Regions from separate parts of the Homo sapiens genome. Here all the other regions are linked to region 3. Evidence: fine-mapped expression QTL. A gene starts in region 3. Each other region holds a variant in brackets. All regions are shown on one strand. Distances are between the middles of the regions. Region 1 has its middle 32 kb from the start of ITPKB. Region 2 overlaps SRP9 (signal recognition particle 9). Region 3 holds the start of ITPKB (inositol-trisphosphate 3-kinase B).

Evidence for each region. PIP is the estimated chance that this variant, and not a neighbour inherited with it, causes the effect.
Region 1: its variant is the best candidate, but not a certain one, in a credible set for the expression of ITPKB in monocytes (TOPMed, PIP 0.60).
Region 2: its variant is the best candidate, but not a certain one, in a credible set for the expression of ITPKB in sun-exposed skin (GTEx, PIP 0.83).

The regions. Positions count from the first base shown.
Region 1 is chr1:226,770,363-226,773,170 of GRCh38, reverse strand. No RefSeq gene overlaps it. Among named protein-coding and RNA genes, the nearest start is that of ITPKB, 32 kb to the right of the region's middle. The variant C/A (reference allele first, on the strand shown) is at 1,571.
Region 2 is chr1:225,785,632-225,788,292 of GRCh38, reverse strand. The region is part of intron 2 of SRP9 (signal recognition particle 9); the gene reads right to left. Among named protein-coding and RNA genes, the nearest start is that of SRP9, 9.1 kb to the right of the region's middle. The variant A/G (reference allele first, on the strand shown) is at 1,552.
Region 3 is chr1:226,738,217-226,741,024 of GRCh38, reverse strand. It overlaps ITPKB (inositol-trisphosphate 3-kinase B), which reads left to right and starts at 1,743. Exons shown (of 8, transcript NM_002221.4): 1 at 1,743-1,984. RefSeq lists enhancers at 1,737-1,986, 2,610-2,808 and a silencer at 2,207-2,446.

The DNA of each region.
Region 1 (2,808 bases), 32 kb before region 3:
GCAGGAGAATCGCTTGAGCCTGGGAGGTGGAGGTTGCAGTGAGCCGAGATAGGTTACAGAGTGCTGCTGCAGGAGACTCCGTCTCAAAAAACAAACAAACAAAGACTTATTTATAATCATTTATAATCATTCAGCATATGCAAAGTCTCAGGGGACTCAGAAAGCGATCTGGGTTCTACTTCCAGTTTCTAGTTTCTGTACTAACCACGGGACCTTGGACAATTCCTTTCACCTTTACAGGCTTCTGTTTCCTCATCCTGAAAACAAAAGCACAGTCTTAGATCATTTGTAAGGTCCCTCTTGCTGTGCAACTCTACGGTTTATCTGCCAGAGGGATTCCTTCTGTGTGCCTTGGACTACATGCAGTATCAGGATTACTTACTCCAAAAGGCAGTTGTTCCTTTGTTTGCTGGCCTCCGGGGAAACCCAGACATTTTATGATGTCCCTGCTATGGGGGTGGCAAGGAGTGCCTGGTGGCTGGTGCCCTCTGCCTCCGGCCTGCATCATTAGCATTGGCCCAGCCTCTTTGGTGGAGGTCATCCCACCCTTGTTATGTGGTCAGACATGCTACCTTCAGGGAAGTAGTCACAAGACAATAGTTCCCTTTGACAGAGAGAAGTCTTTTCAACTATGGTAGACAGCCCTTGAATTCTATCATGGGGTTCAGTGGGTAGCTTCTTTAAATCATGGCTTACTTTCATTAACTTAGTCAATAAATATTTAATGAAGGACAATAATATCTACCTCATCGTATTACTGTGAAGAGTAAACTAGTTCATATACAACTTTGAATAGTGCATGACAGGTAATAAATTCCAATAAATATTAGCTATGGAGTACCTACTACATGCCAGGTACATGCTAGGTGCTGGAGTGCCACAGGAGCAAGACCAGTTCCTGGAGGAACTCACGGATGGATGGATCTGTGAGATGGATGTGCCTACAAGAGTGTGCTGTGAGAAGAAATACAACACAGGAAGAATCCAAAGCCATGGGCATGCAAGTGAGGGAGGTACTGATTCTTCGGGGAAGGAGAAAACAATGGAGGGTGAGGGGGACATCTGTCACTTCCCAGTACCCAGCATCACAGCCCTGCCTTCTTCACATAGAATCCATCTTTCTTATGGGGGATCTATTCCATGGAGTCAGGTAGGACTGATCCCAGAGGAGGGCAGGTGGTCCAAGGTTGGCCATGAGGGTATTCTGTCTTCCTGCTGACAGTCACGGGCTCAGGGATGTGCATGGGGCACATGCTGGGGCAATCCAAAAGCTCCTGGGGACTTTCACCAAACCTATTAGAGAAGCGTTCACTCTCTCTTTGTCTGGGATCATGAGACTTAAGGATAACACACATCTGGAGCTCCCAGTGTGACTAACTTTAGCTTTAGGTGGAGGAAAACTAAATCTAAGTCAGAGGAGAAACTGGAGAGAGAGAGAGAGAGAGAGAGAGAGAGGCCATGACACTCTGAACCTCTGGGTCCTCTTGTGCCTGAAGCTACAACCACTCCCAGTTACATGAATCAATAAAGTACCCCTTTGCCCACTGTATTAGATTTTTGGCATTTGCAA[C/A]CATCAGCCTTGGCTAATACAGAAAGTTTTTTTAAAGAAGATAGGACATGTGAGCTAGAGTTTGAAGAACATGCTCACCAGTCAAAAAAGTTCTATATTAATCTTTGGGATTCAGGAACAAATCATAGTTCCCAGGATTTTTTGGGATGTCTCAAAACTTATAAATTGTTCTGTATTTTTATAATACTATTATGCTGGGTGCAGTGGCTCATGCCTGTAATCCCAGCACTTTGGGAGGCTGAGGTGGGGGAGTTCAAGACCAGCCTGGGCAACATAGTGAGACTTTGTCTCTACTAAAAGTCAAAAAATTAGCCAAGTGTAGTGATGTGAACCCGTAGTCCCAGCTACTCAGGAGGCTGAGGTGGGAGGATCACTTGAGCCCAGGAGATCCAGGCTGCAGTGAGCTATGATTTCATCACTATGATTTCTTCAGCCTGGGCGACAGTGCAAGATCCTGTCTCAAAACAAAACAAAACAAAAAAAACCCCACCGATTTACATGTTTTTAAATGATAACAGAGTGACCATAATAAGAAATAATGAGGTTGGGCTTGGTGGCTCACGCCTATAATCCCAGCACTTTGGGAGGCCAAGGTGGGCAGATCACCTGAGGTTAGGAATTTGAGACCAGCCTAGCCAACATGGTGAAACCCTGTCTCTTGTAAAAATACAAAAAAATTAGCCGGGTGGGGTGGCTGCGCACGTCTGTAATCCCAGCTACTTGGGAGACAGGCGGGAAGAATCGCTTGAACCTGGGAGGTGGAAGCTGCAGTGAGCAGAGATCGCGCAACTGCACTCCAGCCTGGGAAATGAGAGTAAAACTCCGTCTCAAAAAAAAAAAAAAAAAAAGAAACAGTGAATCATGTTCCTGTGTCAGGGTTATCATAAATGTTTCAAAAGTTTTCTGTTTCTATTTAAAATAATAATCATAATTGTTGTTATGAGAAAATGTATGGTACTTATAGATTATTTCAATAACATAAAAATAATCTCTACGTGATAAAGACATTTGATAACAGAAAACTAAAAGAGAAGATTAACACCAAATAAACAACAAATAAAAGTCATTAAAAGTTGAAAGACACTTTCACAAACACTAAAGCATTATTCTCAAAAGGAGACGTTTAAACACAGCATTAATTGCCCTACACGATAATCTTGATCTTTGTTTCATGGGGAATACTGTAGTGGGAGAAAAATGCCTTTCATTTTGTGTTGACACAGGTTGAATTAAGAGTA
Region 2 (2,661 bases), 950 kb after region 3:
TTCCTGAGTAGCTGGGACTACAGGCACACACAACCACACCTAGCTAATTTTTCTATTTTTAGTAGAGACGGGGTTTCTCCATGTTGCCCAGGCTTGAAGATATTACTTTTAAATCAAACCAAATTCTTCCTTGTTAGCAGTTAAATTCTTCACTAGATACTTAAGATCTGCTTATGGTTGGTCATAAAGCCATCTGTTGTAGAATCTTCAAAAACAGCAACTTTAAGCTGGCAGCCCTTTCCTCATTTTGTAGTACAGATCCACTTTTCTTCAGCCCATCTTAAAGGTTCACATGAGTTTTAAACAACAGGAACTAATGATCCTATAATAAAAGTCAACAACTTAAATAACTTGAAGTTCAACCTCATCATGCCCAACTGATTTTTTTAAGTGAGCCTTTTAAACAACTCACTTAAAAAAATTTTTATCCACGCATTGTACAAATTTGTGCGGCAATCTTGTAAAAAGGCCATATTAATCTTCATCATCAAAATTTTAGCACATGTCCTATGAGAGAATGTACATACCTTCTCACTGAAATTTCTGACAGAAAAAGATTTTAGGTCCATAGAAGACAGTATTCTAAATCAATTATGGGATTAGAAAAATGATGGATACATGGGATTATAAAAAAGTCGAAGTTAACATGGATCCTTAATTATATTCAATCATTAACAGGGCAAAAAGAGCCATCAATTGGAGATAAGGCCTTTTGTATTAAAATTCGTTCTGCATTTATTCCCTTATTTTATTTTTTTTGAGACCGAGTCTAGTTCTGTCACCCAGGCTAGAGTGCAGTGGCACAATCTTGGCTCATTGCAACCTCTGCCTCCCAGTCCCAGGTTCAAGCGATTCTCCTGCCTCAGCCTCCCAAGTAGCTGAGATTACAGGCACCCACCACCATGCTAATATTTGTATTTTTAGTAGAGACGGGGTTTCACTGTGTTGGTCAGGCTGGTCTCGAACTCCTGACCTCATGATCCGCCCACCTCAGCCTCCCAAAATGCTGGGATTACCAGCACGAGCCACCGCGCCCGGCCTATTCCCCTATTTTTAAGACAGGACATAGGGGTTTTTCTTCAGCAAGTATACCTAACCACTCTGTGACAATCACAATTAAAATTTTTCTGTGTGGAATGTCAAGATTTAAGAAGTACTTAGTGGTTCACACCCATAATCCCAGTGGTTTGGGAGGCTAAGGCAGAAAGATGGCTTGAGTCCAGGAGTTCCAGATCAACCTGGGCAATATAATGAGACCCTGTCTTGACAAAAAAATTTAAAAATTAGCTGAGTGTGGTGGTGCACACCTGTAGTCTCTGCTATTCAGGAGGCTGAAGCAAGAGGACCGCTTGAGCCCAGGAGGTCGAGGATGCAGTGAGCTATGATCATGCCACTGCACTGCAGCCTGAGCAATAGAGCAAGACACTGTCTCTAAAAAAAAAAAAAAGCAATCAACCAACCAATCAACAAACAAAAGAATACATGTACTCAATCTACCAAGGGTAAGCACTCATGTTAGATACTTTCATATATTTTTTTACTATCACTATG[A/G]TACTTTACAGATGAGGAAATTGAGACCAGAAGGCTAAATTTTTGGCCTAAACTTTTCCAAGGCCAAAATGCTAGTAAATGACTAAGCTAGGATTCACATCTCTTCAATCTATGTCTAGTATACTACATCTCGATTCACTCTTCCTTTTCCACATGTTTAGCTACTCACTACATTCAATTGGTTCTTAGAAGACATGGTAATCACTAAAAGGTCTAACTTCATGCAGTCTCATCATAATGGAACCCTGAACACAAATACAATATATGACCAAAGACAAAAAGTGATTTTTAAAATCACTCTATAAAATTTTCAAAAGAACTAACTATTTAAAAAATGTTTACTGAGTGCTCTCTGGGTCAAGACATCATAGTAGGCAATGGAAATAAGACATGTAAGAATATTACTGATCTATCTCTATTGTCTTGAAGGGCAGTCTATTAAAAAGACAAATGTGATAAAAGAATTGTGATACAGCACAAAAAGCCAAAATGAAAAGCAAGAAATGAAGTAATCCTCAAGTTGGGTTTTGAAAGATAAGCAGCAGTCTGGCCACATTAGGGGTGGAGGTGGGATTCAATATTGCAAAGGAGGAAACAGAATGTTTGAAAGCACTGAGGCCTAACACATCACAGCACATTAAAGGAGCTCTTACATAATACAGAAATGACAGAGATTAGAGAGGATGCAAGGGTGGAGTTTAAAGGTTTCTAAGCAAGGGAGTAACAATCAAATTAGCCTTTCAGAAATCACTCTGGGGCTGGGCGTGGTGGATCACACCTGTAATCCCAGCACTTTGGGAGGCCGAGGTGGGTGGATCGCTTGAGGTCAGGAGTTCAACTCCAGCCGCCTGGGCGACATGGTGAAATCTCATCTCTACTAAAAATACAAAAATTAGCTGGGTGTGGTGGTGCCCACCTGTAATCCCACCTACTTGGGAGGCCGAGGCAGGAGAATTGCTTGAACCCGGAAGGCAGAGGTTGCAGTGAGCCAAGAATGAACCATTGCACTCCAGTCTGGGTAATAGAGCCAGACTCCTTCTTTAAAAAAAAAAAAAAAAAAAAGTCCAGGCACAGTGGCTCACGCCTATAATCCCAACACTTTGGGAGGCC
Region 3 (2,808 bases):
TCTCCTGAAAACTGGCAACTCCTCTTTTTTGCCCCTAGGGAACCAAATTAGGGTCAAGGAGAGGGCTGGCTTCTCTTTCTTAGGAACTGCTCAGATCCTGAATAACTGCTCAGAGACCTGAATAACTCTGGGCTCTTTTTTTTTTTTTTTTTTTTTTTTTTTAGATGGAGTCTCACTCTGTCGCTCAGGCTGGAGTGCAGTGGTGAGATCTTGGCTCATTGCAACCTCCACCTCCTGGGTTCAAGCGATTCTCCTGCCTCAGCAGCCACCCAAGTAGCTGGGATTACAGGAGCGCACCACCACGACCTACTAATTTTTGTATTTTTAGTAAAGACAGGGTTTCACCATGTTGGTTAGGCTGGTCTCGAACTCCTGACCTTGTGATCTGCCTGCCTTGGCCTCCCAAAGTTCTGGGATTGGGCTTTTTTTTAAAAAAGCCCCATTGAGGGTAGGAGGGTAATTAGGTTCAATTCTTCCATTTCTAATTTTTAAAAATTATAAAGTTTTCAACAGTGTGTGATTCTCAGGTATTCTTGGCTAGAAGATCTCTTGATTTCAGATTTAGCATGAGCCTCTTCCTGATGGAGCAGCAGGTTGCTTTGCTCACTTAACAGTATTGTTACATAAACAAGCAAGAGATCTGTGTGCTACAAGTAAAGTCAAAATTTCCATCTGAATTTCAGCTAATCATGATATAAGGACCAATTCAGGCTTTGGATGTTTCAGTCTCCTGAGCCGTGCAGCTGTGTTTTCCCTCCTTTCACTAAATGCTGTAGTTTAAGATTTAGAGAATTATGTAAAACACACTGGCAGTGCCAGGGCTTAGAAGGGGTAGGATCCCCTGCCCAGTAATGTTGGCTGATGTTCTTTCTCCCTTTTTTGCTGATAGTAGGGGAGAAAGTTTCTTGAAAATGATCCAGTCTACAGGAGACAGTCTACAAGGGTCTACAGGAGCAAGAGGGGTTTCAGACGTTACCCAAGCCTTCTTAGTTTCAGGACTATGCTTTTTCTTAAAATAATTCTGAGAATTAAGTGCAAAAATATGCGAATGTCACATGTGCCGTGTGCATTTATAAATAAATGTGACATGTAAAGGTGTATTTATATATCTACCAATTGCACTGCAAAACCATCCCCAGCTCATAGACCAACCAGTCTTCCAAAATACTACTGTGATGCACTTAAAACCTGCAACTCTGCAGGAAGGTGACCTCAATGTACCTTCTTTGAATTTGCAGAACTGTGTACAAGAACACAAACTGTTTATACAGGATTGTAGCCTTTTTTAAATGCTAAAAAGGTCCCCATGATTTGCTTTGTTTAAGACATACACTCAAAACTTTATTAAAAACATTTTTCAAAAATAGTTTCATAAAGCTAGACACATCAGCAAGCCTCGATTGAGGGGTGGAAAATGAATTGTATATCTTTAAACCGCAGAAGTTAAAAGCCTTTTTTGTTGTTGTTAGCTAACAATGGAAACTTTTTTTTAAGTGTTTCCCTCCCTCGTCTTGCCAAGCAATAGAAAAAAAAAAAAAAGAAGAAAAGAAAAACTTGTTCCGCTGAGTTCAACCCCAGACAGGCTCACAACTTCCTTCCTGCTTTCCTCCCCCAAGCCTCCGCCTTTCTCCCTCCTCCCTCCTCCACTACCCCCCCCCCCAACAACTTTTCTTTCTTTCTTTTTTTTTTTTTTAATCGTGCATTGAACAAACACTGAAGTAGCCCGGAGCAGACACTGACAGGGGCAGTATCTCCACGGTCGAAAAGGGCGTGCAGGGCCGGCTTGGCGTCGCCACTGCCGGGATCGCCGGGCCCCTGAACCGAAGAGCTTTCCCCCCTCTTTCGCACTCCTCTTTTTTGTCTTCCATAGCTTGTGAGAAAATAATTTCTGAGCATTTTTACTTTTAAAGCCATCTCGTCCCTACGAGGTTTGCGCCTCTGGGCATGTAGTCTACACAGGACCTGAGAATCTGAGAAACTGCAGGTAAGTTTGGCGGCCTTTTAATGGCTCTCGCCTCTGAACAACCCTCTTTTCCCTCACTTTCTGCTCTGGAGCGAATCTCGGCGTTCCTGGTTCCGAAACAGGGCAAAGGGGTGGGCTGGGGAGGCAGGGAAGGGGGTTTGATTTTGGAGGGTGACATGGAGTGGCGGTGGGGAGAAAATAGGGAGAGACGAGGTCTCCGCATTTCTCCTACCCGCCTTCCGGGCCGCTCACTCCGCGCCGCCTCCCTCAGCGCGCTCCAGGAGTCCCCAGGCTGGGGTCTCGGGGCGGCTCTGCTGGCGCCGGGCGAGGCTGCCCGGGATGCGGAGAAGCCCTGCGCTCCGCGGCGCTGCCCTGGGGTGTTAGAGCGCCGGCTCCTGGGAGGTTTGCAGAGCTAGAGGCTCTGTGCACCTAGGGCTGCTGCCCGGCTGCAGCCATGCACGCCCCTAAGTTCCTCCGAGTGGGCGCGGGTCCGGGAGCCCGCAGGGGCAGTCGCGTCCTCGGCAACAGGGCGCGCTGAGAGCGGACTCGCTCCGCGCGCGTGCGGCGTATACACACACGCGTGTATACACACACACTCACAGACACCCCCCCATAGGGGACGACGGCAGGGGGGCAGCAAGTACTGGTTCCGGTAAAGAGAACGTGTAGAACCTCGGTGCGCCCACACTCACAAAACACTTGTCTAGGGATAGGCGACAAGGCTAGCCCTGAAAAATGCTTCGGCTGCGGCCCCGCTGCCCGCCCAGGCCTTCGTAGGCCGAGAGACACAGCCCCAAGGCTAGGGTCAGGAAGGTAAACGGCGGGCACGCGGGCGCCCTCCCAGA